4 linked regions of the Homo sapiens genome follow. The protein of the gene in region 4 purifies or fractionates together with the protein of the main gene of each other region. This does not show direct contact. Each region holds a gene or a part of one and is shown on either strand. Other genes may lie near its edges. The genes, in order: EZR, MSN, RHOC and ARHGDIA.

Region 1 (7,016 bases), on a different chromosome or scaffold from region 4:
TCAGATGGTTCTTTCCCCACAGAGCATGCTGGGGTGTTGGGCAGGCTCACTTTCTGCCTCTCTTCTCCCCATTCCTGAAGGCACACCCCTCTCTTCATGAAAAAAGCATTTATGTAGATATTCAGTCATTTAATAGGCCCAAATTCTTTCCCTTTTGAACAAATATTGACAACTTGGTAGCAGCATAAGCAGGAGACTGTCCTGAAGTCTGAGGAGTGCTGAGAACTCGCCAGCTGTTGCGCTGTTACCTCTCTCGGTAGAACTAGGAGAATTAGATATGCCTGAAACATTGTTCAGGTGAGAAAGCTGATCTATTGAATATGGAAATTGAGCTCTAAGAGATTTATACTCTGCAAGTAAAGTCTCTATTAAAACACCTGTTTTAGTATTAAATAGGGTCTGGCTGGGAAATCTGTCTCTTGGGGTTCCCTTTTCATTGTACACATAAGCATTAAGTGGGAGCATGTAGGACTATTTGTCATCTTTCTTTAAACCCTTAGCTTGGAATAGGTGGGAGTATAAAGAGGGCAAAAACAGGTAAGCGCCCTCCTGACAGGCATTGTAAGCTTGTGAACAGAGGAAGTTCAGTTTAGCTGGGTTACAATTTGAAACCTGACACTCGGACCAAAAACAAAAACTAACAAAAACTAGAGGAACCTGATCTTTAGTCCTGTAAAAGCACTTTTTCTCCCTTAGCTTCATCCCTCTTTGGGCAGATTTCATCATAGAAGTCCTTCTGTAGGTAGGAGTTTCTGGAAATGCACTAGGTCCAGGGCTTCCACCTTAAAGGGAAAGGGTGCACGGGGAGCTTGGGGACTGAAACAGGAGCCACAGAACATGTCTCTTCTTTAAATTCCTTGCGGATAGGTACTCAGGGCTTCGCTTGCTTTCTCACGTCTCTTTCCGTATGCACTCCACTGTCACCCTCTGGCCCTCTAACACATTTCCAAGAAAACTGCAGGCATCCATATCCTTCCTCAAAATGAAAGTGCATATGATATACTAGAGGTTGGTTATGTTTTGTTCTTTTGATGTAAAATTTAAATACAATGAAATGTAATCTTAAGTGTTCATTTGTTGAGTTCTGACAAATATGCCTGAAAAATGCAAAATCTTAAGACATGTAGAACATTATCACACTCAGCTACATATTTTGGATTTACATTTTTTAATCATTCTTGGTTTTTTTTTTTTTTTTGATATGGAATCTCACTGTGTCACCCAGGGTGGAGTGCAATGGCACATTCTCAGCTCACTGTAACCTCTGCCTCCTGGGTTCAAGCGGTTCTCCTGCCTCAGCCTCCCGAGTAGCCAGGATTACAGGCACATGCCACCACTCCTGGCTAATTTTTGTATTTTTAGTAGAGATGGGGTTTCACTGTGTTGGCCAGGCTGGTCTCAAACTCCTGACCTCAAATGATCTGCCCACCTTGGCTTCCCAAAGTGCTGGGATACAGGTGTAAGCCACCATGCCTGGCCCATTCTTGCATTTTAAAGTCATTTCAGGCTGGGCATGGTGGCTCATACCTGTAATCCCAGCACTTTGGGAGGCTAAAACAGGTAGATCCCTTGAGCTCAGGAGTTCAAGACCAGCCTGGGCTGGTCTTTGCCAACATGGCAAAACCCCGTCTCCACCAAAAGTACAAAAAATTAGCTGGGCGTGGTGGTGCATGCCTGTGGTCCTAGCTACTTGGGAGGCTGAGGTGGGAGGATCACTTGAGCCCGGGAGGCGGAGGCTGCAGTGAGCCAAGATTGTGCCACTGCACTCTAGCCTGGGTGACAGAGTAAGACCCCATCTCAATTTAAAATATATATATTATTTCAAACTTTAAAAAGATTCTAAAAATAGTACAAATAATTCCCATATACCCTTCACTTAGCTTCCTCAAACATTAACACCTTATGTAACCGTAGTCCAAATACCAAGATAAGAAAATTAACATTAGCAGTCTCTAGACCTCATTCCCATTTTAATCAGTTGTCTCACTGATGTCCTATTTCTGCCCCGGGACCCTCTCTGGAGCCACACAGTTAGTTGTCAGACCTCCCTGTCTCCTTCGATGTGGGATAGTTCCAGTCTTTTTTTGTCATGACCTTGGTATTTTTGAAGAGTACTGGCCATTGACTTTGGAAAGCCCTTCAGCTTGGATTGTCTGGTGTTTTCTCATTATTTGGAGTTTTACATTTTTGGTAAGAATAAAGTGCTGTTTTGCCCTTCCAGGACCTCTTTCAAGGTGGCACATGTGGTCGGTATATCTTATCTTAGGTGGTGCTAATTTTGATTATTAGTTAAGGTGGTGTCTGCCACGTTTCTCCACTGTAAAATCACTATCCTTCCCTTTACAATTGGTCAGTATATTTGGGGGAGATAATTTTAAACTATGTAGATGTCCTAGTTCTAGCTACCATTGATGAGATTACTGTGGTATTTGAGAAATTGTGATTTTTAAAAACTTTTTACGTGTATTAATTGGAATTCTATAAGGAGCCAATTTCTGTTCTCCATTTATTCAGTTATATTAATATGGACTCATGGATATGTGTTTCGGTCTTTGGGTTATGATCTATGAGTATGTATCTTCTTGCTCAGGTTGTTTGAGATTTGGCCTTTAGGAGCACCTTGAAGTGTGAGCCCTGCATTCTTTGCAGGCTTCCTTGCTGCCTGGCTCCTCGAGATGCACCAGGTTCATCCTTTGTGTTCCCTGTTCTAGTCCTGGAATCAGCCATTTCTCCAAAGGCCTCTGTCTGGTCCCTGTTATTGGAGAATCACGCTTTTTTAATGTGTGGCCTAAGCAAGGACACTTATAAACCCTGTGGCCACCTTCTCTGTAGACCCTGTTCATGTCCTATATGTGATCTCTTAGGAAAAAGGAAATCCTTGGGCTTTAATTTTCCAACTTTGGTCAAGAATTAAAAGTTCTTTAACTCAAAAGTGAGTCATAATTTTCATGTTTAACCTTTTTGTTTTGATACTGCAGTTATGCTTATGAGTGGCTATGAATTGTTATATGAGGTTTCAAAGTCCTAAGAGGAAAAACTTTCTAGGCACACCAGAGAGCCGGAGGCCTAAATTTTCTAAGGTCAGAACCTGTTTTGAGAGTCCTGTGTAGAGACAGGAGCCGGAGAGGGGATCCCAGCCCCTTGAAGTTTCAGGATGCGGCACGCTGGCTCACAGTGCTATGTGCTGTGGGCGGAGCCTCCGGAGCTTGGATCCTAGCTTCTCTGTTGGTGCCAGCAGGCTGCTCTTGTGTTTTGGGAGAAAGTGCTCCAGAAGCAACACATGCCTACCTGGTGCCACTTTCACAGCCTTTCAATGTAAGGAGGACATAGGCTGAAGTCAGTAGCAGGGCAAGGTGGTATCTGGAGTTCCCCTTTAATGCTCTGAAACCTGTAAAGAAAATTACATCTCGAAGATAAAAGAACAAACTCATTGCATGTCTGTTTGAATGCCAGGTGTGTTTTTTTTTAATGGGGATTGGTGATTCTAGAGCATAGCACTGTAAAAGAAAGGATGTATACAAAAGCTTTGACATTTAGAACCATGGTCTGGCCAGTGTCCTGCCATCATTCCTGCAGGCACACCATGACTGACTGCGCTAATTCCCCAGAAGGGCCATGTCAGGCTTACATGTTTGCCCTCAGCCTACAGAGTCCACCCCACTGCCTTGATCTAGTTGATGTGATCATAACGAAACCTGTATTGCTCATCAGTATTGAAGCTGTTGGTAGGCCATAGATTGCTTGACCTTCCTGCTACTTCTAAAATGAAGGTTTTTGTGGGATGTTGGAAAGGACTGCTTTGGAGGGCAGCATTGTTGGATGGTGGTTTTGAGGATTTGTCGTTATTTCCAGAATGGCATTATCCCTGGTAAAATGTGTTGGAAGAATAGGGTGGGAAGTGTCAGGTGAGCAGAGCAATGTGGTCTTGAAGTCACATGATGAACTTGGGAATGCTAATAAAAGCCAGAGTCTGGCCAGTCATGGCATTGCATTGGTTAAGTAGGATTAGCCCTGTGGGGCCTTCATTAGGGCGGTTAGTTTGAAGGCTGTCCTGGAAGTTGGAGAGTGACATGGGAAGATGTCTGTCCAGCCAGGAGAACACACACTGGAATGAGAACCAGAGGAGCAGAATGCATAGCAAGGCCTCTGTCCGTTTCTCTTGGCAAGCTCTGTTGAGTATGGCACGTCTAGGAACGTGATGGGATCTTGGCCCTCCCTGTTGGTTTCATAGAACTAAATGATCAGTAACTTAAATAACATTCAACAGTCTGTAGCAGAAGAGCCTGTATGTTAAGAGAGGCCTCAAGGGAAAGGGAGGCAGCCCTGGGGAACTGTGTGTTGAAAGGTGGGTCTGAACCGTGGAGTTTGGGGCTGGATTTGACAGCTCTTGGATGCTGAGTTAAGGACTGTGTTGACATGGGAGGAGAGGAAATTAATCAGATCAGCAGACTGAAAGTAGGGCTGCTCCAGCACACAGCTTGAGAGTGGGCTCTGGCAGGATGAGAGGTAGGTGAGTGTGGTGATGTGATGTGGGAATGAACAGCAGAAGATACCTGAGGGGGAGGGTCAAGGTACCTGGGTAGGAATTTCAGTTGACCTCGAGATCACCAGCCTGGGTAATCATAGGTGCCCTAGACTGAGGAAAAACCAAAGGAAATGGGAACAGATTAAGGTTGCAGATGCCTTGCAGCCAACCACTTGGCTTAACCTAGGACAGGTGGGAACTATTTGATAATAGCATATAACACATTGTGCCTCTTGGGTTAGCTTCATATTATTTTAATTGAACTAATAAGAATTGATTTGCGAATCTCTCTTAGCCAATCCAAGAACATATGTATACATCTAACCATCCACTTCTTCTTTTTAACCTCAGGTTAACCCCAAAGATTGGCTTTCCTTGGAGTGAAATCAGGAACATCTCTTTCAATGACAAAAAGTTTGTCATTAAACCCATCGACAAGAAGGCACCTGTAAGTTCCAAAGGATTCTATTCAGGGGCTACTGTTTTTCATTCTTATACTTGTCAGGGTAACGGACAAGTTATACTGTGACGAGTAGCCAGTGATAGTCCAAACTCCTCATGAGGTTACATTGAGGGCCAGAGATCCTGTGGGCCAGGCAATTGCTGCAGGGGAGACCACTTAACTTTTCAAATGATTCTCATTCCTTATGAAGAAAAGGGCAGTTCTGAGCCATTGGCCAAATGATAAGCATTTCCCAAAATGCTGTGTTTTTGGTGTGGAGAGCCAGCCTGTCCCCTTGACCACCTGGGTGCAGGGACTCTCCCCGGCACCTGACGGACAGTGGGACCTGCGAGTCTCAAGGGCCAGATTTGCCTTTCAGAGCTGTCCTGGAACTTACCCAAGATAGGGACAGTCAGACTTGCACCCAAGCATTGCTGGTGCCCAAGGTTTCATCGGGGCTTCACCCACTTCTGTTGTCAGAGGTGTGCATCCTCACACAGGTGACACTGGCAGGCAGTCATTTTGGGAGGACATGGTAAGAAGGCGACACTTTATGTCCTGAAATCTGATAGTATTGATTGTAATAGCTGCAAAGACCAGTGCATTATGTAAATTTGGTTTTATTTATTCTGCTGACATTTAAACTTTTGTTAACTCAGAATATTTGAGACATACGCACATAACTGTAGCATTGTAGAATGGGTAAGGATTTTGTTATCTAATCAGAAATCTAGTTCTCTAAAAAATTGCCACCTGAAGAAATTCTGTTACCACCTTAGAGCCTGTTCTGAATTTTACGAAAATTATAGATTGGAAAGGACTTTGTGTTCTCATGTAATTTTGGTTCCTTAGTTACAGTGTTAAGCTTGGAGAGGCAAACATGGGCTGTGGTCCATACCTTGGTTGTCTTGTTAACCCTTTTGGGACTGGGTACTGCTTAGCAATGGTAAATCCACTTAGAACAGTATGTGGTGTTATTGTCCTGTTACTTCTCCCCACATACAGGTTTGTCTAGCATAATTTAAAATCAGCAGGTCTTGACAATTTTGTGAAAGTATTTTCTTCTTTGTTAAAAACGTCTTGGCCAGGCTCAGTGGCTCACGCCTGTAATCCCAGGACCTTGGGAGGCTGAGATGGCCGAATCACGAGGTCAGGAGTTCGAGACCAGCCTGGCCAACACAGTGAAAACCCCATCTCTACTAAAAATACAAAAATTATCTGGGCGTGGTGGTGGGCGCCTGTAATCTCAGCTGCTCGGGAGGCTGAGGCAGGAGAATCGCTTGAACCCAGGAAGCAGAGGTTGCAGTGAGCTGAGATCGCCACTGCACTCAAGCCTGGGTGACAGAGCTAGACTCCGTCTCAAAAAAAAAAAAAAAAAAGGGCTCCTGCTGTTTGCAAACTCTTGGCTGCTACTCTGTGGGTAGTTGCACGGTTATTTAAAATTAAACGCGTATTGAATGCAGACTCTAAGGCTCCATGGCAGCAGTTCATATTATGCAACAGCATGAATGGAGGGTCATAGCGTCTTCATGTCACTTGGGTAGTAAGATTGGCACAGTTTAGAAGAGCAAGAAAATGCTGAAATCTCTTCATCAGTAGGCTACTACGTACTCTGTGACGCTACTGCCTTTTCAGAACACTTATTAAAAATTTGACTAGAGCAGCAGCTCTGGACTAGACTGTTTCAGAATGTTTGTGCGTGTGTGTGTGTGTGTGTGTGTGTGTGTGTGTGTGTGTGTGTTTGATGATAAGTCCATCTCTTGAAAAGCTGAAGAATATTTTCATAATAAGCCCCAAGCAGAAGCCATTGTAACGCATCTCGTGCATGTGCCTTTATTATAGAGTAGCCTCATGTGAAGCCATCTCGTAAGCAAAAGAAACATTCGCTGGTGGCACGCTGTCCCAGGCACTCTTCCAGGGCTGTGTGCACCATCAACAAGGCAAAGCTCCTACCCTGGTGAGCCTACATTTACGTGAAGGAAAGGGTTAAAAAGGCAACTGAGATGCTTCCTGGTAGTAAATTTAACAGTACAGCTGTGATTAAAAACT
Region 2 (7,768 bases), on a different chromosome or scaffold from region 4:
CCTCCGCCTCCCAGGTTCAAGCGATTCTCCTGCCTCAGCTTCCCGAGTAGCTGGGATTACAGGCGCACACCACCACGCCCAGCTAATTTTTGTAATTTTAGTAGAGACAGGGTTTCACCATGTTGGTCAGGCTGGTCTCGAACTCCTGACTTCATGATCTGCCTGCCTCGGCCTCCCAAAGTGCTGGGATTACTGGCTGGAGCCACCACGCCCGGCTGGCGTGTTTTAACAAATGTAGGGGAGGTTGGGCTGACTAGGAGGGACAATTAGCTATAAAAGTGAAACCGACCCTAGATAGGTTGTAGACATGCTGCAATATGAATGAACGAGTTTGATTTTCCACTACCTTTCTCCATCTGTCACACGCTAGAAATAGCCTAAAGCACATAAATGAAAATGGAGCAGAGAAAGGGAAATTTTTTCCCCTTTTAATTAAAATTACTGGTTGGTATTCAGTGAACTAGGGTGTGCCCCTGAACACCTTGGCCTTGGTATGAGGAATAAGAAAAGTAACAGAAGGCACCTGGTGACACTACCGAACCTTACCAGGAGACCACACAAATGTCAACCTTGGCCACTTTGCTCAAATTACTCATTTCCTTTTATCTGAGGACCATAAAGGTCTGAGAACAGTGGGCAATTTGTTTGGAGCAAGAAAGGGAACTCAAATGTCAAGAACTCAATCATTGGGTCAGAATAAAGGGTCAATGAGATGAGCATCAGAAAGCCTGGACCCCAATCTTGGCTCAGTCACCATGTGCCCTTAGGTAGGTCTTTCCCTGTAGGTCTCAATAGCCTCATTAGATTTTTGTTTTAGTTTTAGTTTTTTTTTTTAAGAGAGTTGTACTAAATAGTCTCCAAGGTCCCTTTCAGGTTAAGATTCTATGATCTTAACAGACATAATATAGTTGCTTTTCCTAAAAGTTGACCATTCCTTGAGTCAAAGTATAGAAAATTCTCTAATACTTCCAGTCTATCAAAATTCAGCCCTCTCCTTCCAATTTGATTCAGGTTTCAGTCAATCTGCATAAAAATGCCTTCAGTATTTAGGTACCCTCATTACTCCAGGCCTGACTACAAACAGCTTATACTCCATTCTCTCTCCATTCCCAGGAAAACAATAAACACGCTGTCTTGTCTTCTTTGCCACTTTGACTCAGATGAGACGGTTAATGCAAGTTTGAAGCAACTTCCAGGCCCATGAAGCTGTGTTTCAAAGTGGGCTATCTCAGAACTGAGGATGAGATATGCCACTACAGAAGAAAGACCGTGGAGCAATGTCTATTCCCAGAGATCCACCCAACTGTTCAGGCAAAGCCGCACCTTAAGAGGAGTCAGGAGTCAACCACAGAGAGAGACCCAAAGAGCCGCTCCTGACAGGATCTTTATAATCTTGTTTTGGCAGACAATGGGATATTTTCCCCTCTCTCCAAAACCATTACTCTCTCTCTTTGGGGGCGGGGACTAGGGAACAAAGTGTGTAAAAGCCTCATGTCCTAAAACCACAAGCAATTTAAAGGAGATAGACAGTGAAAGCACATACTTTTTGAAAACTTGGTGTTTCTGAAGGACAAGGTTCTGGAAAGGCAAGAACGACTTGGCAGTGAGGCTGGTATACAGTAACGTGGCAACCAAAGCTCATCACAAACCCAAAAGGCTGGGCCCCCAACTCTCCTCCTCTCATCCCAGGGGACCTTCAGCCCTTTTCAAGGCTACTAGTCACTATCTCACCTCTACAAGGCTCAAGCAGTCCTGGGGAGACATGTTTGGGAGCACTGCATTGCCTAGGCCAGCTCAACAAGCTGTTTGGCCTAAGGGACTCAAGCCAGGGTGGTCACCAGGCCTTTCTGAGCAAGGGAAGGGCCTCAGCAGCCATTTGGCATGACTTGCACAAAAGCAAGCAGAGCTCATTAGTCAGGCACACCCCTCCTCCCCTCTCCCTCCTGGGCATCCGGCCCCCCTATCCCCACTCCCAGGAGGCTTCTGTTCCTCTCGTAACAGCCAGTGGGGTGGAGACGCATCCCCAAATCAACCACCACTCTAGAAAGGTGTGGCCCCACGAGAAAACCCACACCACACAAAATAGTCCGGAGGGGATAGGAGGAGATAGAGAGGCATTAAGCAATAGGAGGGGCAGGGATTTGGAGGTGGAGAGGAGGGAGAAACCGGTCCTCTCTCCCAGGAGATGGGGTAGGCCTCTCCTCAGACTGGTGCCTAAATAAGTGTTGGTGCTCTCGGGTGCAGCCTCGATGACGATTTCCTCACATCTCTCTCCTCACCTCCTAGTGGAAAACAGCTGGAGCCACCCGGTGAGGCTGTGGGAAAGATGAGTGGGGGTGCCGGATCCGCCCCGAGCGGCTCCCTCCTTTCTCCCTGCTTCTCTGTTCCCATGTCCCCTCTTGGACATTGGCAGCCTTGCCCCAGAAAGGTGCCAATTCCTGGGTTGGGGAAAGTGTTGTCTTCTGGACCAGAATCCTCTCCTCTGTGCCCATGGCCCATCAGGGAAAAGGGGAAACCCCAGGCCCCAACGAAGCCGTCCTGACTGTTGCATCTCAGACACAGGGAACTGGAACCTGAGAAAGAGGCAGGCCTCGCCCCGTCCAAACTTCCAGCCTGGACACCCCCTCAACCCCTGAGGGCGCACCAGACCAGGATCCCACTCCGGTCCCCTCCCTACCCTTGGCTATGGCGGAGGGCGCGGCGTCCCAGGCGGGCCGGTGGCTGGCCAAGCCCTCAGCCATCAGCAAAGGGCTATGAGGCTCAGCCAGAGCCATTGGGGTCGACAGCGCCCACCTCCGGCACTCACCGTTTTGGGCATGGTGGCGGCAAAGGCAGCGGAGTTGGCGAAGTTTAGCTAGGACTGTCGGGCAGTGCTGAGCACGCAGTACACACGGCTTGGATTCGGCTGGCCGGGGACTCAGATTGGGTCCCTCACTAGCGTCGGGGCGACTGTTAGGCTTCCTGCTAACGGGCCACGACTTCACAAACCCCACCCAGGAAAGAGCCGCCCCTGTCGCGCCGCCCGCTCCTTTATGTGGCCCGGCTTCCGCGCCGCTCCCCGCCCTCGCGCCCGCCTCCCCGCCGACCGCTGGCCTTGCCCCGCCCAGCCCCGCCTGGCCAGGCCCGGCGCAGCCAGGCCACAGCGGCCACGTGGGGGGCCCGGCTGGGCCCGGGCGGACCTAGGGTAGCTACCACTCCCCACCCAGACCCACCCGGCTCCTCTCCCACCCTGGTCACAGCCCCTAGCCTTCCACGTCCTGGCCTTCCAGCCCCACCCCCACTCAGGGCCCAGACCCTGGGCCCTGACAGATGCTTACTCAGCCCCTGACTGCAACTTTCCACTGATGGGGAGCTCACTACCTATCTTTTCCTTCTCTAGACAGCTCTGGCTCTTAGAAAGTTCTTGCCGTGTCTGAACTCCTTTTCTCTATGGCTTCCATCCATGGATCTCAGTTCTGCTCCCTGAGGCCACACAGATCCCCTGTTGTCCCTAACAGCTCCTCAAAGGCCTGAAGATCTCAGGTCCACAGGAAACTTCTCTTCTTTTGGCTAAACTGCCTCACCTCTTAAAACACTTCATCCATTCTCTTCCGTAGGACTCTCCCCATCATATTTCCTACCCATCCTTGCTCAGTCCTCATTTATCTTTCCTTCATCTAAATCCCAGTCTTCACCTTCCTCAAATCAGTGACCTGATCCTTTAGCCCCTCTCCCAGTACATTCACTTTCTGATGTCCTGATGGGGCTGGCTATAATTCCCTCAGGTTAGATGTGACCTCCCTAGTCCACACCCTTGGGGTTTGTCTGCCAGCTCCCTTTCTCCTTCTTGTCAAGGTCACAGAATCCCAGGATGGCAGTGTTCTAGACTGTTGAAGTCGTCTGGTCAAGTCTGAGTTTTAGGCTGAGTGCGGTGGCTCATGACTGTAATCTTAACACTTTGAGAGGCTGATGCAGGAGGATTGCTTGAGCCCAGGAATTCGAGACCAGCCTGGGGAGCATATCAAGACCCCCTCCCATATCTATACAAAAAAAATAAGTGAGAGCCGGGCATAGTGGCTCACTCCTGTAATCCCAGCACTTTGGGAGGCTGAGGCGGGCTGATCACCTGAGGTCAGGAGTTCAAGACCAGCCTGGCCAACATGGTGAAACCCCGTCTCTACTAAAATTACAAAAATTAGCCGGGCACGTGCCTGTAATCCGAGCTACTCGGGAGGCTGAGGAGGGAGAATCGCTTGAACCCGGGAGGCGGAGGTTACAGTGAGTCAAGACTGAGCCAGTGCACTCCAGCCAGGGCAACAGAGTGAAACTCTGTCTCAAAAATAATAATAATAATAGTAAGTGAGACCATGTGCAGTGGCTTACACCTGTAATCCTACCACTTTGGGAGGCCAAGACCTGCAGATCACTTGAGGTCAAGAGTTTGAGACCAGCCTGCTCAACATGGCGAAACCTCATCTCTATTAAAAATGCGAAAAAAAAAAACAAAAAAATTAGCCGGGTGTGATGGCACGTAGTTCCAGGCACTCGGGAGGATGAGGCAGGAGAATCGCTTCCGGGAGGCGGAGGCTGCACTGAGCCCAGATTGGGCCACTGCACTCCAGCCTGGGCAATAGCACAAGACTCCGTCTCCAAAAAAAGTAAAATAAAATAAGTCCGAGTTTTAGTTTGAAAGTGGCTGGCCATAGTCCTTTTTTCCTCCTCTCCACTGGCAACCATGTGAAGGCATGGTCTGAGTATCCTTTGTGAGGTAAGGCACCACAGATGGTAAGCCAGTTTGAGACAATGGAAAGGATACTTGAGAGGTCAGGACACCTGGCTTCTACGTATAGCTCTGCCATTAACTCATCCTATGACCACTATGTGGCCTTGGGTAATTCCCTCCCCCTCTCTGGGCTTGAGTTTCCATTTCTGTAGCAAGAAAGGACTGGACTCCGGGGCTTCCAAGGTCCTTTCCCACTCTGACATTATAAAGGGATGAGAAAGGAAGTATACTCCCTAGGACAATAGATGAGCCTAACAGGATTGCATATGGGCTGGTCTTGCATTTGCACTCAGGAACCAGTAGTCTGATTCCATCCTCTTCCTTTGCCTTCCCAGACCAACAGTGTCCACGATTCAGTGTGCCTCGGTTTCTCTCACTGCTAACAAGATTCATTGATGTGTGCTAGGGTAAACAAAGTTCCCTGCCAAGATCATTTCCTTGAGCTAAGCATTTGTTCAAAGAGCAGCACTCATCGGAAAGCCCAAACAGTCTCCATGAGCAGTTGTCCCCAAGGAAGAGCAGCACTCACCAGAAAGCCTCAGCAGCAGGAGTAGCAATGACAGCTCATCACACGCCTTAATACTGCCATTGGCCCTTTTCCACCAGATGTTCAAGGAACTCAACTGATTTCTTCACTCATGTTCACCTAGAACCTACAGGGACCTGGCATGAAGCTAAATGCCTAAAGACAAAGAATTTACTTGGCGACTCCAACTTTCTGGAAAGTGGAAACTCCCTTGTGTCATTCCCCACCTCCCATGCCAACCACTCCCCACAACACACATACACAGGGGAGAGTTGGGTAGAGAGTGTCAAGTAGCTGAAGACACTACTAAAAGGGAAACAAGGACCAGGTGTGGTGGCTCACACCTGTAATCCCAGCACTTTGGGAGGCTGAGGCAGGCAGATCACTCGAGGTCAGGAGTTCAAGACCAGCCTGGCCAACATGGGAAAACCCCATCTCTACTAAAAATACAAAAATTAGCTGGGTGTGGTGGCATGTGCCTGTAATCCCAGCTACTCGAGAGGCTGAGGCAGGAGAATTACTTGAACCCAGAAGGCAGAGGCTGCAGTGAGCAAAGATCATACCACTGCACTCCAGCCAGGGTGACAGAGCAAAACACTGTCTTAAAAAAAAAAAAAAAGAAAGGGGGCATAGAAGTCCAAGCAGGGGCAGGGGGTGTCAGAGGCTCGGGGAGCTAAGAAATAGGGGGAAAGGGGCTGAGGGAGAAAGATGAGGTTGGACCTCTGGGGAGGAGAGGATGGGAAATAGAGAGAGAGCATAAACTATCAGAGACTAGTTAGTCCAGTCTCACTCCAGGTCAGGAGAACTGGGGATCAGAAAGAGGAAAAGACTTACCCAAGGCCAGATAGCTAATGTACAGAAGACAAAGAGCTCAGTTAAGAAGCTCTGGCAATAGTACAAGCAAGAAATTTTTTAAATATTATTTTCTCATGTTTTATTTTAGATACAGGGGGTACATGTGCATGTTTGTTACATAGATATATTGCACTCAGGTAGTGAGCATAGTACTCATTAGGAAGCTTTTCAACCCATGTCCTCTTCCCTCCCACCTCTAGTAGTTTTCAGTGTCTGTTGTGCCCATGTTTATGTCTGTAGGTGCTCAATGTTAAGCTCCCACTTATAAGTGAGAACATGCGGTATTTGGCTTTCTGTTCCTTCACTAATTCACTTAGGATTATGGCCTCCTGTTCCATCCATGTTGCTACTAAGGACATAATTTTATTCTTTTCTATGGCTGCATAGTATTCCACGGTGTATATGTACCACATTTTCTTTATCCAGTCGACTATTTCTTTCTTTTTTTTTTTTTTTTGAGATGGAGTCTCACTCTGTCACCCAGGCTGGAGTGCAGTGGCGTGATCTCGGCTCACTTCAAGCTCCGCCTCCCGGGTTCATGCCATTCTCTTGCCTCAGCCTCCCAAGTAGCTGGGACTATAGGCACCCGCCACCATGCCCGGCTAATTTTTTTTGTATTTTTAGTAGAGACGGGGTTTCACCATGCTAGCCAGGATGGTCTCGATCTCCTGACCTTGTGATCAGCCCACCTCGGCCTCCCAAAGTGCTGGGATTATAGGCATGAGTCACCGCTCCTGGCCTTAGTTGACCATTTCTTTATCCAGTCAACCATTTTCTTTATCCAGTCAACCATTGATCATGGGCACCTACATTGATTTCATGTCTTCGTTACTGTGAATAATGCTGCTATGAACATGCAAGTCCATGTGTCTTTTTGGTATAATGATCTATTTTCCTTTAGGTATATACCTAGTAATAAGAATGCTGGAACAAATGTAGCTCTGTTTTAAGTTCTTTGACAAATCTTCAAACTGCTTTGCCCAGTTGCTGAAGTAATTCACATTCCCACTAACAGTGTATAAGCATTCCCTTTTCTCCACAGCCTCGCCAGCATTTGTTGTTTTTTTTGACATTTTAATACTAGTCATTCTGACTGATGTAAGGTTACCACCTTACATCTGTTAGATTGTGGGTTAGATTTGCATTTCTCCGATGGTGAGTGATGATAGGCATTTTTTTTTCATATATTTGTTGGCCACTTGTATGTCTTTTTCTGAGAAGTGTCTGTTCACGTCCTTTGCTCATTTTTTTTTTTTTTGAGACAAAGTTTCACTCTTGTTGCCCAGACTGGAGTGCAATGGCGTGATCGTGGCTCACTGCAACCTCCACCTCCTGGGTTCAAGTGATTTTCCTGCCTCAGCCTCCCGAGTAGCTGGAATTACAGGTGCATGCCACCACGCCTTGCTAATTTTTGTATTTTTAGTAGAGACAGGGTTTCAGCATGTTGTTCAGGCTGGTCTCGAACTCCTGGCCTCAGGTGATCCACCTGCCTCAGCCTCCCAAAGTGCTGGGATTACAGGCGTGAGCCGCCACGCCTGGCCCTTTGCTCATTTTTTAATAGGGTTATTTATTTTTAGATTATTGATTTGTTTAAGTGCCCTATAGATTCTAGATGTTAAGCCCTT
Region 3 (7,916 bases), on a different chromosome or scaffold from region 4:
CCGGAATGGTGAAATCATTCCAATGTCCCGGGAGTTTACCCCGGAGACTGAGCGCCAGCGTCTTCAGCTGCTTGTAAGTAGGAACCAAATTCCCTACCCCCATTCTTTGTCGGGTCTTGTGCCTCCCTGCACCCCATGGCCCTGAGAACTCTCACACCCCCACCACAGGCACAGAAAGCACTTTACTGGGAAGGCCGCTGTGTGGACTATGGAGTGCGGGGCTGAGCCGGTGGGAGGTTGCAGCAGGGAGGCTGCAGCACTGGGCTGGTCCAGTGCTCCCACTGTGGCCCCAGCTGAGGCAGGAAGTAGAGACTGAGGTGGGGGAAGGAAACAGCAAAGGCCCCTGAAAGGCAGTCCGGCTTAGTGCCTAAACGCATGTGGCTGTGGAGCTGGAAGCCCGGGATGCATCCTGGTCTGAGTGCTTTGCTAATTGTGTGACCGGAGCAGTTCCCTCCCTTAACCTCTCTGTGCATCAATAGTTCCTGCCTTAAGGGCTGTTGTGAGGAGTAAATGAGTTAATATTTGCTAATATTAGAATAACGTGTGGCACATGGTAAACTCTGTTTAAGGGTCTGCTGTAGTCAACGTCATCTGTGTGCCACCGTGTGCTGTGAGCATAATGCCCCCTGGCTCTCTGTTCTGATCATCCCCAACTCCAGGGCTTCCTGAAACCAGAGCTGCTAGGCAGTGAATTCACCCACCTTGAGTTCCCCCGCAGAGTTCTGCCCAAGGAGCTGGGGCAGAGGATGTTGTACCGGGACCAGAACATGACCGGCTGGTAACACTTCCCTCAGAGCTGGGGCCCGTTCCCATGGCAACACAACCAGTCCCTCGCCCGCAGCAAGGTGGAAGCTGGAGGCTGGGAGTTGGGAGGATGTGGCCCTTCTAAGGGGTTTGTGTGAGGGTATGCAGCTCCTAGGGGAGAGGGGCTTTGATGCCTGGGTGATGCCTCCTCTACTCCCCCCTCCCCAGGGCCTACAAAAAGATCGAGCTGGAGGATCTCAGGTTTCCTCTGGTCTGTGGGGAGGGCAAAAAGGTAAACTCCATGGTAGAGGTGGGAGAGGGGAGGAGGACCTATCACAACTTGTCTAGGGAGGTGGAGGTTCTACCTGAGGGTAGGGGTGGAAGGGATCTTTGGTTTCAGAGAATCTAGCAGAGGACTACAGTGGCACTCCCTCCTCATTTCTTTCAGGCTCGGGTGATGGCCACCATTGGGGTGACCCGAGGCTTGGGAGACCACAGCCTTAAGGTCTGCAGTTCCACCCTGCCCATCAAGCCCTTTCTCTCCTGCTTCCCTGAGGTGAGCCCCTTAAACCACACCTTGCCTTCTCTGGGAGTCTCAGGCCAGCTTTCATCTGCAGTCCCTTTATCTCCAAGCTCCCTGTCCAGCAAACCCCACACCTCAATCCTCTCTGCCCTTTTCTCCCACCAGGTACGAGTGTATGACCTGACACAATATGAGCACTGCCCAGATGATGTGCTAGTCCTGGGAACAGATGGCCTGTGGGATGTCACTACTGACTGTGAGGTAGCTGCCACTGTGGACAGGGTGCTGTCGGCCTATGAGCCTAATGACCACAGCAGGTAGGGGCTGCATGGCATGGTGGTAAGGGGATGGCATTGGTGAAAGAAGGGTCAAAGGGAAGCAATGCTTGGGACCCCACATGTGGGCCTGTGTATCTGTCTTCCCACATACATGTTGGTACATGAATGTGCATGTGTGCTCCTGGCAGGTATACAGCTCTGGCCCAAGCTCTGGTCCTGGGGGCCCGGGGTACCCCCCGAGACCGTGGCTGGCGTCTCCCCAACAACAAGCTGGGTTCCGGGGATGACATCTCTGTCTTCGTCATCCCCCTGGGAGGGCCAGGCAGTTACTCCTGAGGGGCTGAACACCATCCCTCCCACTAGCCTCTCCATACTTACTCCTCTCACAGCCCAAATTCTGAAGTTGTCTCCCTGACCCTTCTTTAGTGGCAACTTAACTGAAGAAGGGATGTCCGCTATATCCAAAATTACAGCTATTGGCAAATAAACGAGATGGATAAAGGTGTGTGTCTGTATTTGCTTTGACTAGAAACTGAAAGATAAGAAGAAAGCTCTGTGGGGTGGTGGAAAGAGCACCAGAACAGTTCTAGAAATGTGGTGTCCCCCAGGTTCTTTATTCCACCCCCACTCTTTCCACTCCACGCATTTGCTGTGAGTGTCATCATCCACTTCTGTGGCCTCACCCATCTGCCCAGACCCTTCCTGAGCTTTAGACCCACACATACCAGTCATCTCCCGAATGTCTCCTGGATAGCCTGCTGGCACTTCAATTCAAATACCTCAAACTAAATTCACGACTGCCCTCCATAGCATGTTCCTTCTCCTGGTATATCCCCTCAATGGGCACCAGCTCTGCTGCTCCAGTTAGAAATCTTGGAGTTGGTCACCCTTGGCTTTCATTTCTTTCTCATCAAGGTAATTGATCACTAAGTATTGTTGACTATAGACCTTTAAAAGTATTTCTCTACTTATCTCCATCTCTCCCCGCCTTCAGTCACCACCACCTTTTACTATATTGGCCTCCTAAATTTAGTGGCTCCTTATTGCGCCTAGAACAAAATCAACACTCAACTCCTGTGCATGGCATATAAGGACCTTCATGATCCAGCCACTGCTTCCTTCTCCAGCTTCATTTTTTACCACCACCACCAACTTCCTGGGGTTTGCATAACTGTGGGCTTTTAGTAGCTCCAACTTATTCAAAATCTACTGCTGGACACGGTGGTTCACGCCTGTAATCCCAACACTTTGGGAGGCAGAGGTGAGAGGACTGCTAAGCCCAGGAGTTTAAGACCACCCTGGGCAATAGTGAGACCCCATCTCTACAAAAAAATAAAAAATTAGCTGAATGTAGTGGTGAGTGCCTGTGGGAAGCAGTTAAGCATCCAAGGAAATTAAGAGTATTGCTTATAGTAGAAAAGAATAAAGATCTCAAATCAGTGATCTGTTTCCACCTTAAGAGGCTAGAAAAAGAACAGCAAATTAAACCCAAAGTAAGTTAAGGGAAGCAAAAATAAAGATGAGCAAAATAATTAGAAAAGGCCCCTCACCAGCCTGGGCAATATAGCAAGACCTCATCTGTACAAAAAATACAAAAATTAGGTGTGATGGTACACGCCTGTAGTCTCAGCTGCTGGGGAAGCTGAAGTGGGAAAATCATTGGAGCCTGGAAAGTTGAGGCTGCAGTGAGCTGAGATCTTGCCACTGCACACTTAGGCAACAGAGACCTTGTCTCAAAAAAAAATTAAAATTAAAAAAATCTACACATCACCTTATCTTGAGAACTTCACCTGTTGTTCAGGACTGGGTATCGCACAGCCCACACATGCCCACACTACAGCAATGACCTCCGGTATTGTAACTGTCTACATTAGGAGTCAGTAGGGAGTAGGAATTAAGAACAGGGGCTCTAGAGTTCAGCTGTTTGGGTTCTAGTGTCAGACCCAGCACTAGCTCTGTAACCTCTCTGAACCTCAATTTGCTTCTCAGTAAAATGGAGATAGCTACCTCATGGGATTCTTGTAGTTAATGTATGTGGACCCAGGTCCATGTAATATGGATTCAATAAATGTTAGCTATCTTGAAATTGCATTCCTCATTTAGACTCTAAGTTGTTTGAAGGCAGAAATGGATCTTCCGAACATAGCTCTCAGTTCACCCTCGAGAAATGTTCATTGAGTCAGTTAAGAGGCCTGGGGCCAAACTGCTGCGGACCTGTTTTCACATTTGTCAAATGTCTGGATTGCACTTCAGATATTTAAAGTCTGTATGACTCCTAACATTCATTCATTCATCAAATATTTGTTGACAACCTATTATGTGCCACTCACTCTGCTAGACAACGGGGGAAGGGACAGGCTGGAGGAGCCCGTGAGGTAGCAGGGCCAGACCACCAGTTTGGAGCCAGACAGGCCCGGCTGTGTGAATTCTTGCTGTCACAAGTCAAAAACAGTTGTGTAAGCCACTTGATTTCTCTGAACCTCAGCTTCTCTATGGGCAAAAGGGGATGGGTATATTTTCCCCAGAGATCTGTGATGAATATTGAAAGGGTTAAGCTGTGTAGTGTCCCAAGCACAAGCCAATGAAATGTTGGTGGACGTCCTCATTCTACTCCCACCTCCTCAGCTCCCTTACAGGGAAAGGAGATACGCGTGTAGGTAAATATCCTATGCGCCAAGTCAGACCTAGGAGTGGGAACAGAATTCACAGCTGGGATCCAGAAGCATTTCTAGGCGCACCCTTTGAGGAGTAGGTAGGAATTGGACTCCTGGAAATTCCAGGCCCAGGGAAGAAAGCGAATTGTGAGGAGGAACGGTGGTCTGGGTCTGAACGGCTCTGAGAGGTCTTCAAGTTTGGGGGATGACGTTGGGCTGTACGATCCTAGGAACAAGAGGGTGGACATCTCCCCCCAACCAACACACCCGCGCCGGGCCCTGGGACCTCCCGGCGGATACCCTTTCCCAGTCCCGCTTCCCGCGAGGTCCCAGGTGCAGCAGGAGCGGGTGGCCGCTTGGCCACAGGAGGGCAGCAGCGGCCCTTCCTGACCCCACCCCGAGCACCTCTTAACTTTCCCGACGCCGGTCCTCCCCTAGGGGATTGAAGGCTGGGCAGAGTCTGAGTCCACCCGGGTCGTGCTCCCCCCGCTCGCCCGGCTCCTCCGCAGTCCAGGAATCTCCCCGTGGCTCTCCCCGACCTGGAGGGGTGGACGCCCCTGGCCCCCAGTCCCCGGCCTGCGGAGGGGGCCGGTGGCTGCGGCCCTGCGCGGGGCCGGGGCGGGCCGAGCCAAGGGCCGCCCCCGGCCGACCCTCCCCCTGCCGGGCCCGCCCTCCCCGCCGCGGCGCTGGAGGAGGGCGGGGCGGGGCCCTGGGGTCAGTCTGAGCCTCCGGCACCGGCCGCGCAGCTGGAGGCGGCGGAGCGGAAGGTACCCTGGGCCGGGGCTGCGGGCGGTGGGGCGTCTTGGGAACTCGTCCCCAGGAGAGCACTTTCCCTTCCTCGCTGGCCCGGAGATCGGGGCCCGTGCGAGGAGGGGCTTCGGCCTGGGCGTGGACCCCGTTCCCTCCAAGCGGAGTCGGCATCCGGGCTGGGCGGTGGTCGGACCGCGTCGGCCCCTCCCCGGGCTGCAGCGAGGGGGCCCGGACCTGCCGGCAGGGGCTCTGGCCTCCTGAGGTCCGAGTCGGAGCCCCTTCCCTTCTCCTCCCAGCTTCCCGGAACCTGCCCCGCCGGGCGAGGGGCGAGGGAACTTCAACTCAGACGCCCCAGCCCCCAGGGTGGGCGGCCGCAGGGGACCTAGAGTGGGATGGGGTGGGAATTCCTCCAGGCCAGGAGGGAGGTATGGCGGGAATAGGGGCGGGATGTGACCATTGGGGCCTGCCACTGCTCGGCAGGGTCTGGACGCCGCCCTGGACGGTTCCTGGAGCCCGCTTGTGTTGAGGATAAGGGAGATGGGGAAGGATCCAACTCTGTGTGTGTGTGTGTGTGTGTGTGTGTGTGTGTGTGTGTGTGTGTGTGTGTGTGTGTGTGTGTGTGTGTGTGTGGTGTGTGTGTGTGTGTGTGTGTGTGTGTGTGTGTAGAGAGAGAGAGAGAGAGAGAAAATGAGATTGAGAATCCTCCTTCTTCATACTCGAACCAAGAAAGAGTATCCTGGGGTTTGGGACTGGGATCCCGAGGCCGAGTCCCGCCCTCACTCTGGTTTTAAAGTTGAGAATGCAGTATCTCTTGGTATCTCCAGAACGGATTCCTTCCCTAGGTGTAGGGTGGGCCGGCAAAGTCAACCGGCCGCTCTGGATCATCTGGGAATTCAAGAGAGCGATTGGAGAGAGGTCTGATGTAGCCACACTGTCTTGTCTTGGGGAAGGCCCCAGAAGTTCCAGGCTCCATTCCAGGCCCTGTGTGGGGCTCAGTTGCCCCTCTTAAGGGGTCAGTGGGACAGTCCCTCTGGGGCTGCCTCTCACAGGGAGTTGTCCATGCCATCTTGGCCTTGGGCCTAGTGTCCTGGCCTGGGCTGCCTGCTGTTCTGGCCCAATCATAGCCTGGAGGGAAAGTCTTCTAATTGGGCTGGAGGCTCCAGGTCCCTTAACGCATGCCTCAACCCCGGGTTTCTGTCCTCTGCCTCCCACCACTCTGGTGCCGTCTGAATTACCCTGCTGGGGGGACAGCAGTGGCATACTCATGCCTAAGTGACTGGCTTTCACCCCAGTAGTGATTGCCCTCCATCAACACTGCCCACCCCAGGTTGGGGCTACCCCAGCCCATCTTTACAAAACAGGGCAAGGTGAACTAATGGAGTGGGTGGAGGAGTTGGAAGAAATCCCAGCGTCAGTCACCGGGATAGAATTCCCAAGGAACCCTCTTTTTGGAGGATGGTTTCCATTTCTGGAGGCGATCTGCCGACAGGGTGAATGCCTTCTTGCTTGTCTTCTGGGGAATCAGAGAGAGTCCGTTTTGTGGTGGGAAGAGTGTGGCTGTGTACTTTGAACTCCTGTAAATTCTCTGACTCATGTCCACAAAACCAACAGTTTTGTGAATGTGTCTGGAGGCAAGGGAAGGGCCACTCAGGATCTATGTTGAAGGGAAGAGGCCTGGGGCTGGAGTATTCGCTTCCTAAAGGGCAGTGTGAGGTGGTGGTGGGGTGTGGGGAGTAGAGGCGTTCAGTCAGCCCAGTTTGACAGGATGTGGGACTGAGAGAAAAAGCTAGGTTTGAGGCTGAGATCAGGTTACCGTCGCTTTCTTAACTGCTCCCTGCCTGGTTGGTGCTGGGACTGGCCCTCATTTGTCTCTTCTTTTGGGGCTCCTCCCAGCCCAGACTCTAGCCCCCTCCCCCTTCCCAACAGCCTTGACTTCATCTCAGCTCCAGAGCCCGCCCTCTCTTCCTGCAGCCTGGGAACTTCAGCCGGCTGGAGGTCAGTTCCCCTCCCCAGGGAAGGAGGAAGTGAGGGAAGCTGCGAAGGTGTGATGAACTGTGCAGATGCTCGCTGTGTGTGCTGGGGGTGGGGGACACATGGAAGCCCGGGAAGCTGACTCCTTGCCCTGAGTCACAGGGAGGGGTGGGCAGGGCATGCGGGTGAGCTGGACTGAGGGAGGAAGGGGCTGTTCCAGAGTGGGTGGAGGTGATTCCCTGGTGGATTCTTCTCAGTCACTGTGCTGTGGTAGATGTGTGGCTCCCTACAGTGTGGTCATTGTCCCCTGCCGGGGGCTGAGTGACCCAGTGTTGCTGGCAGGCCTAGGAGGAAGGGGGGAGGAAGGCAGCCTGCCCAAACTCGAGCTGTGGGCATTGCTGGGACTGAGCCTCCTTTGTATTACTTGGGGCTTTGGGGACCGGGTGGGGTGGACCAGGGAAGCTGGCTGGCTGCTACCCCTGTCCTCTGTCTGGGTTTCCCTGCTTCTGCTCTCCCTCCTGCCCCTGAGGTGACATGTCGAAGAGGCACGACTTTGAGTCACACAGTCCTGCTTTGGGTGCTGTCCCTGCCCCTTATAAGCCACAGCTCTGAATCTGTCTTAACCTCACTGAGCCTTAGTTTCCTGGTTTGTCAAAATGGAAAGTGCACCATCTACCTTCCAGGCATCTGGGTACCGAAGGAGATAATTCCTGCCAAAATGCCCGACAGAGTGCCTGGCACCTAGGGGCTCTATAACTATTCTTCCTTTACCCACCTACCACCTGGTAGCTGGTTCTGCTACTCTGGTCCTAGAGAGGGACTCCTCATTTGTGACTGGACAGGTATGACTTGTGCTGAGGGACAGTCTGTTCTAGATTGGACCTTAGAGATTATTAAACTGTAAATGCATCAAAATCCTGGTAACCAATGAAGTCTGACTCGAAACCCTGATGTGTGAAGTAGATAGAAGCTTGCTCCCTGGACGTCCCGCATCCC
Region 4 (7,943 bases):
GAGGCAGGAAAATTGCTTCAACCTGGGAGGTGGAGGTTGTGGTGAGCCAAGATCGCACCACTGCACTCCAGCCTCGGGAACAGAGCAGGACTCCATCTCAACAAATAAAAATAAACAAGGTTTTTAAATAACAAAATTATTTTAAAAGTTCATCCTTTTAGTAATGCAAGAAAGCCAGTTAATGTGATGCCATCATTTTAGGACGTAGCATTGGCAAAGACATATATGTCTGTCTGTCTTTTTTTGTCCTTTTTTTTTTTTTTTTTTTTTTTTTGAGAGACAGGGTCTCTCTGCTGCCCAGGCTAGAGCGCAATGGTGCCATCTCAACTCACTGCAGCATCTGCCTCCCAGGTCCAAGCAATAATTCTGCCTTAGCCTCCCGAGTACCTGGGATTACAGGCACCTACCACCAGGCCCGGCTAATTTTGTATTTTTAGTAGAGATGGGGTTTTTACCATGTTGGCCAGGCTGGTCTTGAACTCCTGACCTCAGGTGATCCATCTGCCTCAGCCTCCCAAAGTGCTGGGATTACAGGCGTGAGCCACCGCACTTGGCCTTTTTTTGGTTTTTTTTTTTTGGAGACAGAGTTTTGCTCTTGTCACCTAGGTTGGAGTGCAATGGCGCTATCACGGCTCACTGCAACTTCTGCCTCCCGGTTTCAAGCAATTCTCCTGCCTCAGCCTCCTAAGTAGCTAGGATTACACGCATGTGCCACCATGCCTGGCTAGTTTTATATTTTTTAGTGGAGACCACGTTTCACCATGTTGGCCAGGTTGGTCTTGAACTCCTGACCTCAGGTGATCCACCCACCTCGGCCTCCCAAAGTGCTGGGATTACAGGCATGAGCCACCATGCCCAGCAACAGGATCTCCTTTTGTCACCAAGGCTGGAGTGCAGTGGCATGATCACAGCTCACTGCAGCCTTGACCTCCCAGGCTCAGGTGATCCTCCCACCTCAGCCTCCAGAGTAGCTGGGACTACAGGTGTGCGCCACCATGCCCAGCTAATTTTTGTAATAAACCCTTCGATTTACATGAACAAAAATTTTTTTTTTGAGATGGAATTTTGCTCTTGTTGCCCAGGCTGGAGTGCAATGGCACGATCTTGGCTCACTGCAAACCTCTGCCTCACGGGTTCACACCATTCTCCCACCTCAGCCTCACGAGTAGCTGGGACTACAGGCATGTGCCACCACGCCCGGCTAATTTTTGTATTTTTAGTAGAGACGGGGTTCCACCACATTGGGCAGGCTGGTCTCAAACTCCTGACCTCAGGTGTTGCGCCTGCCTTGGCCTCCCAAAGTGCTGGGATTACAGGCGTGAGCCACTGCACCCGGCCTATGGTGAATAAATTTTCAACAAAGGTGGTGAGACATTGCATTGGGGGAAACGATAGTTTCTCAACAAGGGGTGCCAGGACAGGTGGATGTTCCTACACACAGAAAAGATGTTCACTCCATACGAAAAGTTAACCCAAATACGGACTGTATATCTAAATGTCAGCAAACATAAAATATAGCAGAAGATCACAGAAAAAATATGAGAGAGAATCTTTACAATATCCGGTTGGGCTAAGAGTTTGTTTTTGAGACAGGGTCTCTGTCACCCAGGCTGGAGTGCAGTGGTACAATCATAGCTGACTGCAGCCTCGACATCACGGGCTCAAGTGATCCGCCTACCTCAGCTCAGGAGTTCTTAGGATAGCAAAGGCATGCACCATGTGGAAAAAACTACTGCACTAGAATAAAAGGTTTTGCCCTTAAGAAGACATCATTAAGAAAATGAAAGACAAACCACATAAAATGTCTGCAAATCACCTATCTTTTTCTTTTGGAGACAGAGTTTTGCTCTTGTTGCCCAGGCTGGAGTGCAATGGGGCAATCTCAGCTCACTGCAGCCTCTGCTTTCTGGGATCAAGCGATTGTGTTGCTTCAGCCTCCCGAATAGCTGGGACTACAGGCGTGCACCACCACACCCGGCTAATTTTTGTATTTTTGGTAGAGACAGTTTTTTTGCTATGCTGGCCAGGCTGGTCTCAAACTCTTGGCCTCAGGTGATCCGCCTGCCTCGGCCTCCCAAAGTGCTGGGATTACAGGCGTGAGCCACTGCACCCAGCCTCATATATCTGATAAAGGACTGTATACAGGATATGTAAGTACTCATAGCTTAATCAGACAGCCCAATTAAAAATGAGCAAAAGATTTAAATAGGTTTCTGCCCAGGAAGACTCATTGGGGAAGTGCAGGTGCGACTCACAGTGTGACACGACACTGCTTCACACTTGTACAGCTGGGATCAAGCACAGCAGGTATTGCTGAGCCTGTGGCCACCTGGAGCAGCCCAGCGTTGCTAGGGGGTGCAAAGTGGCACACCTACATTGGAAAACATTTGGGGACTTCCACTCAGGAATCTACCCAAGAGAAATGAAAGCACATATTCATGAAAAGGCTTAATGCAACATTTATAATGGTTTATAATATTCGTAAATGTTTATGGCAGTATTATTCATAATGGACAAAAAAGAAACCAAATATTTGCCAACTGGAATGGTTACAAACAAAATGTATACCCACACAATCGAATCTTTTATTTATGTATTTATTTATTTATTTTGACAGAGTCTCGCTCTGTCGCCCCGGCTGGAGTGCAGTGGCGAGATCTCCACTCACTGCAAGTTCCGCCTCCCGGGTTCACGCCATTCTCCTGCCTCACCCTCCCGAGTAGCTGGGACTACACGCACCTGCAACCACGCCTGGCTAATTTTTTGTATTTTTAGTAGAGACGGGGTTTCACCGTGTTAGCCAGGACAATCTCGATCTCCTGACTTCGTGATCCGCCCGCCTCGGCCTCCCAAAGTGCTGGGATTACAGGCGTGAGCCACCGCGCCCGGCCCAACAGTTTTTTTTTAAAAGCACTTGGGTTATTGGAAAGTTGGGCAACATGATCACCTGCACAGGGGCTCTGAGTCTTTAACAGTGAAGCATTTCACACCTGATTAGGAAACGCTGTGCTGATGACATGGCACTGACAGTGTGACTCAGTTACAGAAACTCTCAAATATCCCTCCAACATTCAGAAATTTTCAAAAGACACCAAGCTCGGTATTTTGCATAGTTCTGTCCCCAAAAATGCCCTCCTGTGTTCATGTCTGTGTCTGAACAAAGCAGCTGTGCGTGTGTGTGTGCGTGTGGTCTCCACTTCTCTTGATCAGCCTGGGTTGCCTGGCAGTATGGGCCAAACAGACAGGGCCCTGTCTGCATGGAGCTCAAGAGTGATTAAAAGAGGCTGGGTGGCCGGACATGGTGGCTCACACCTGTAATCCTAGCACTTTGGGAGGCTGAGGCAGGAGGATCGCTTGAGCTCAGGGGTTCAAGACCAGCCTGAGCAACATAGTGAGACCCTGTCTGTACAAAAAATAAAAAATTAGCTGGACATGGTGTTGCACACCTGTAGTCCCAGCTACTCGGGAGGCTGAGGTGGAAGGACTGCTTGAGCCCAGGAGATAGAGGCAGCAGTAAGCTGAGATTGTACCACTGCACTCCAGCCTGGGCAAAAGAGCAAGACCCTGTCTTGAAGAAAAAAAAAAAAAAAAAAAAAGATTGGGCACCCCGGTGGTTCATGCCTGTAATCCCAGCGCTTTGGGAGGCTGAGGTGGGTGGATCACCTGAGGTCAGGAATTCGAGACCAGCTTGGCCAACATGGTGAAACCCTGTCGCTACTAAAAATACAAAAATTAGCTGGGCATGTTGGCTCACACTTGTAATCCTAACTACTCGGGAGGCTGAGGCAGGAGAATCGCTTGAACCTGAAAGGTGGAGGTTGCAGTGAGCCGAGATTGTGCCATTGTACTCAAGCCTGGGCGACACTGAGACTACGTCTCAAAAAAATAATCAATCAATAAATAAAAGAGGCGTCCACGTTAACGAGTCCACAGTCCTAACAAGTGCTGCAGGCTGGACGCGGGGCAGCGTCCCACCCAGTGTCTGGTGCAGGGCATTTAGGGGCTTGGCCTCCAGGAGAGGCGAGCCCGGGGCTGGGTGCGAGCACTGCTGCTGGGCCAGGCCACTCACGTTATGCGGCCGTTCCTGATACTTCAACACGGCCCTTGTGGGCGAATGTGTGGAATCTCGGAACAAGCGGAGTGGGGAACAGGGCTCTGCGGTGAAGCCCAGGCTGAGGCAGCCCCTCATCTGCTCACGGTGCCAGGAGCTCCCTGCCTCCTGGTCCTGAGGAGCCGCGGGATTCCTCAGGGACACTAGGGCCTCTGCAGCGGCGCCTGCGCCAGGCAGCCACGCGCGCTGCGCACGAATTCTGTCTCAGCCTGGAGAAAAACACCTCCGCTGCGCCCTCGCCCAGCACCAGCTTTCCGCGGGGCGTGCAAGGGGCTCCTCCTAGCCCCACAGCCCTGTCTTTCCACGGGGGACACCAAGGCCCTGGAACGGCCCGCGCGCCAGCGCTCTCGCCCGTGTTTAACGAGAACTTAATCCCCGTGCCCGTTACCTCCCCGAAGTCCCGGGACTAGGTGACTAGGCCCCGAAGCAAGAGTCGCAGTCGGACCGACTGGGCCGGGGAGGGCAGCGCACTGCACCTGCGCGGGCTTCCACAGCCCACGCGGCCGCCGCAGGCCTCGAGTGGGCGCGGGTTGGGCAGCGGCGAGAGGCGGGACCGGACCTCGCCTCCCGGGTGCGGGCGCCCTGGGCTCGCGTAGGGAAGTGCCCTGGCTTACAGAGGTGACCACTGACGGGGCTTGGGGTGGAAGGTGACGACGCCAGAACCCACGCGGAACGCGCCCACGAGGCCCAGCCGCAAGATGGCGACGGCGTGCCCCCGGCCACCCGCGCGCCGCGCATGCGCCCTGGCCTTCCCCGCCCGAGTGAGCGGAAGTCTCGTGACCCCGGAAGTGACAGGCAGGGCGGGCGGGGCGGCCGACGACGTTCGTCATTTAGTGCGGGAGGGATCCTGAACCGCGCGGCCGAACCCTCCGGTGAGTGGCCGTGGCGGGGCGGAGGCGGCGGGGCGGAGGCGGCGGGTCGGGGCGGGGACCGGCGGCGCCGGCGGGGGCGGGGGGCGCTGAGGTGGGGGCTTCCGCCTTTGTTCGCGCCCCGCCCTGAGCCCGCGGCAGGGTCTCGGCGGGCGGGGGCGCGGTGACAGCGGGCCAGGGCGGTGCGGGCTAGGGCGGGGCCGGGGCGGGACCGGGCGGCGGCGGCCCCGGCCCCACGTGCGGGTCCCGGGCCGGAGGGGCGGCGGGGACCAGGGGAGTGCCGGCCCCTCCCGAGCGGTCCGGAGCTTCTTTCATGGCCGCCGAGGCGCGTGGGGCCCGGGCCAGACCTGAGGGCCCCTCCTTGGGGACGCGGGGGGCGCCGGGCCGGCAGCCGCGGTCCATCGCGTTCGGGGGCGACGCGGGGATTGGGGCGCGGCCTCCCCCAGCGCCCGGGCCACGCCCGGCACGGATTGCGGGCCCTGCGGAAGTGCGGGCCGCGCCCTAGGATCCCGGCGCCTACGGCTATCCTCGCGCGGCGCGGAGGCCCCAGCCCCTGGAGGAAGCAGGGCGGCCTGGACCCCGGCCTGGGTGTCCCGGGTGTGCTGCTCCCTGACCCACCTCCCACGCTGCCGGGAAGGATCTGAGCCTGACAGATCCCCTGCCGGGTCAGTGCTGCCCCGGGCACTCCGGGCCCACCATCTACAAGAGGGCCCGAGAGTACTGAGTGGCTGTGGTAGCTCCCAAGTTGTAGGTCACAGACCCTCACAATTGTGGAGAAACCGCAGATACTTAGGATCCCCGTGTCCAGGTGGCCCCGTGCGGTATTCTAGCTGCCCCTAACATCCGAGCTCCAGGGGCATCCTGTTTGAAAGATGACGCTGAGCCGACCACACACGTTTACATGTGACTACCACGGCCAGAGGAGCAACCCTACTGAGGGATACCGAGCCCCGTTACCCCGTAGGGCGAGGGCCTGGGCAGCTCAAGAGCGGCAAGACCCTAAGAGAGGGTTTAGTGTGGGCCCCGCCGGTTGATTCTGGGGCCTGCTAGCCCCGCCCCACACATACAGGGGGCTGCTGCCTCCTCCATCGTGGAGGGGGAGGTGTGTCCTCTCTCCCCATGATCGGCTGCAGTTCCCATTTTGTCTTAGATGTTATACCTGGGGTGGGGGCACCTCACACTGCCCCAGAGGATGCCCCTGAGCAGGAATCGCGGGGGTGGAGAGGAGCGAAGGTGGCCCCCTTGGAGCCCTTTTGGAGCTCCGGCTGCAGCCCACACTCCTGCTCAGAAGTGCGCCTCCGTTGGGGATCCAGGTCCAAGGCCTGTCACCGTCCCGCCCACAGGTGTCCCGACCCAGGCTAAGCTTGAGCATGGCTGAGCAGGAGCCCACAGCCGAGCAGCTGGCCCAGATTGCAGCGGAGAACGAGGAGGATGAGCACTCGGTCAACTACAAGCCCCCGGCCCAGAAGAGCATCCAGGAGATCCAGGAGCTGGACAAGGACGACGAGAGCCTGCGAAAGTACAAGGAGGCCCTGCTGGGCCGCGTGGCCGTTTCCGCAGGTGAGTCTGGGCTGCGGGAGCCGGGTGGCCGCCCGTTCACTCCAGCTGTCTTGCCGCTCCCCAGCCCCTACTTCCACTGGTGGGGGTGGGGCCCTCACCTGCTGTCACTCCCCAGACCCCAACGTCCCCAACGTCGTGGTGACTGGCCTGACCCTGGTGTGCAGCTCGGCCCCGGGCCCCCTGGAGCTGGACCTGACGGGTGAGTGCCCTGCGGCCGCGGGGGTCCGGGCGGCCCCTGGTGGGGATCTCGGGAAGTGCAGCCAGGGGGCCGCGCAGGGCTGGGGCTTCGCGCAGGGCTGCTGGGCAGTCATTGAGGGGGAGGTCCCCCCAACAGGCGACCTGGAGAGCTTCAAGAAGCAGTCGTTTGTGCTGAAGGAGGGTGTGGAGTACCGGATAAAAATCTCTTTCCGGGTAAGCTACAGGCTGCTGTGGCCAGGGAATGGAGGCGGGGCTGGGGCTGGGGTCCGGACCGACCTTCCCTGATCCTCGCTTCGGGTCCTGCAGGTTAACCGAGAGATAGTGTCCGGCATGAAGTACATCCAGCATACGTACAGGAAAGGCGTCAAGAGTGAGTGGGGCCCCGGGCAGGGCAGAGGGGGCCGCTTGGGTGCGTGCTGCCAGGCGGGGAAGCGGGGCCGCTGACCGCCCTCTTCCTTGTGCCGCAGTTGACAAGACTGACTACATGGTAGGCAGCTATGGGCCCCGGGCCGAGGAGTACGAGTTCCTGACCCCCGTGGAGGAGGCACCCAAGGGTATGCTGGCCCGGGGCAGCTACAGCATCAAGTCCCGCTTCACAGACGACGACAAGACCGACCACCTGTCCTGGGAGTGGAATCTCACCATCAAGAAGGACTGGAAGGACTGAGCCCAGCCAGAGGCGGGCAGGGCAGACTGACGGACGGACGACGGACAGGCGGATGTGTCCCCCCCAGCCCCTCCCCTCCCCATACCAAAGTGCTGACAGGCCCTCCGTGCCCCTCCCACCCTGGTCCGCCTCCCTGGCCTGGCTCAACCGAGTGCCTCCGACCCCCCTCCTCAGCCCTCCCCCACCCACAGGCCCAGCCTCCTCGGTCTCCTGTCTCGTTGCTGCTTCTGCCTGTGCTGTGGGGGAGAGAGGCCGCAGCCAGGCCTCTGCTGCCCTTTCTGTGCCCCCCAGGTTCTATCTCCCCGTCACACCCGAGGCCTGGCTTCAGGAGGGAGCGGAGCAGCCATTCTCCAGGCCCCGTGGTTGCCCCTGGACGTGTGCGTCTGCTGCTCCGGGGTGGAGCTGGGGTGTGGGATGCACGGCCTCGTGGGGGCCGGGCCGTCCTCCAGCCCCGCTGCTCCCTGGCCAGCCCCCTTGTCGCTGTCGGTCCCGTCTAACCATGATGCCTTAACATGTGGAGTGTACCGTGGGGCCTCAC

Evidence for each region.
Region 1: the proteins of ARHGDIA (region 4) and EZR purify together in Homo sapiens (co-purification; 3 studies listed by BioGRID and IntAct, with this or other methods). This does not show direct contact.
Region 2: the proteins of ARHGDIA (region 4) and MSN purify together in Homo sapiens (co-purification; 2 studies listed by BioGRID, with this or other methods). This does not show direct contact.
Region 3: the proteins of ARHGDIA (region 4) and RHOC purify together in Homo sapiens (affinity purification with mass spectrometry; 4 studies listed by BioGRID and IntAct, with this or other methods). This does not show direct contact.

What each region holds. Positions count from the first base shown.
Region 1 is NC_000006.12:158,774,365-158,781,380, reverse strand, and holds part of EZR (ezrin), read left to right. Parts: intron 1-4,876; coding exon 4,877-4,973; intron 4,974-7,016. UniProt on the Homo sapiens protein: Probably involved in connections of major cytoskeletal structures to the plasma membrane. In epithelial cells, required for the formation of microvilli and membrane ruffles on the apical pole. Along with PLEKHG6, required for normal macropinocytosis.
Region 2 is NC_000023.11:65,662,892-65,670,659, reverse strand, and holds the start of MSN (moesin), read right to left. Parts: upstream 3,007-7,768; 5' UTR 2,819-3,006; coding exon 2,807-2,818; intron 1-2,806. UniProt on the Homo sapiens protein: Ezrin-radixin-moesin (ERM) family protein that connects the actin cytoskeleton to the plasma membrane and thereby regulates the structure and function of specific domains of the cell cortex.
Region 3 is NC_000001.11:112,704,128-112,712,043, reverse strand, and holds the start of RHOC (rho-related GTP-binding protein RhoC precursor), read left to right. Parts: upstream 1-4,916; 5' UTR 4,917-4,966; intron 4,967-5,105; exon of another isoform or gene 5,106-5,211; intron 5,212-6,875; 5' UTR 6,876-6,944; intron 6,945-7,916. Other genes in the region: PPM1J (protein phosphatase 1J), read left to right, coding at 1-73, 660-778, 973-1,036, 1,193-1,300, 1,433-1,584, 1,734-1,881. UniProt on the Homo sapiens protein: Regulates a signal transduction pathway linking plasma membrane receptors to the assembly of focal adhesions and actin stress fibers.
Region 4 is NC_000017.11:81,868,338-81,876,280, reverse strand, and holds the start of ARHGDIA (rho GDP-dissociation inhibitor 1), read left to right. Parts: upstream 1-4,943; 5' UTR 4,944-4,983; intron 4,984-5,283; exon of another isoform or gene 5,284-5,645; intron 5,646-6,323; 5' UTR 6,324-6,350; coding exon 6,351-6,540; intron 6,541-6,655; coding exon 6,656-6,739; coding exon of another isoform or gene 6,740-6,874; coding exon 6,875-6,951; intron 6,952-7,044; coding exon 7,045-7,108; intron 7,109-7,205; coding exon 7,206-7,405; coding exon of another isoform or gene 7,406-7,916; 3' UTR 7,917-7,943. UniProt on the Homo sapiens protein: Controls Rho proteins homeostasis. Regulates the GDP/GTP exchange reaction of the Rho proteins by inhibiting the dissociation of GDP from them, and the subsequent binding of GTP to them.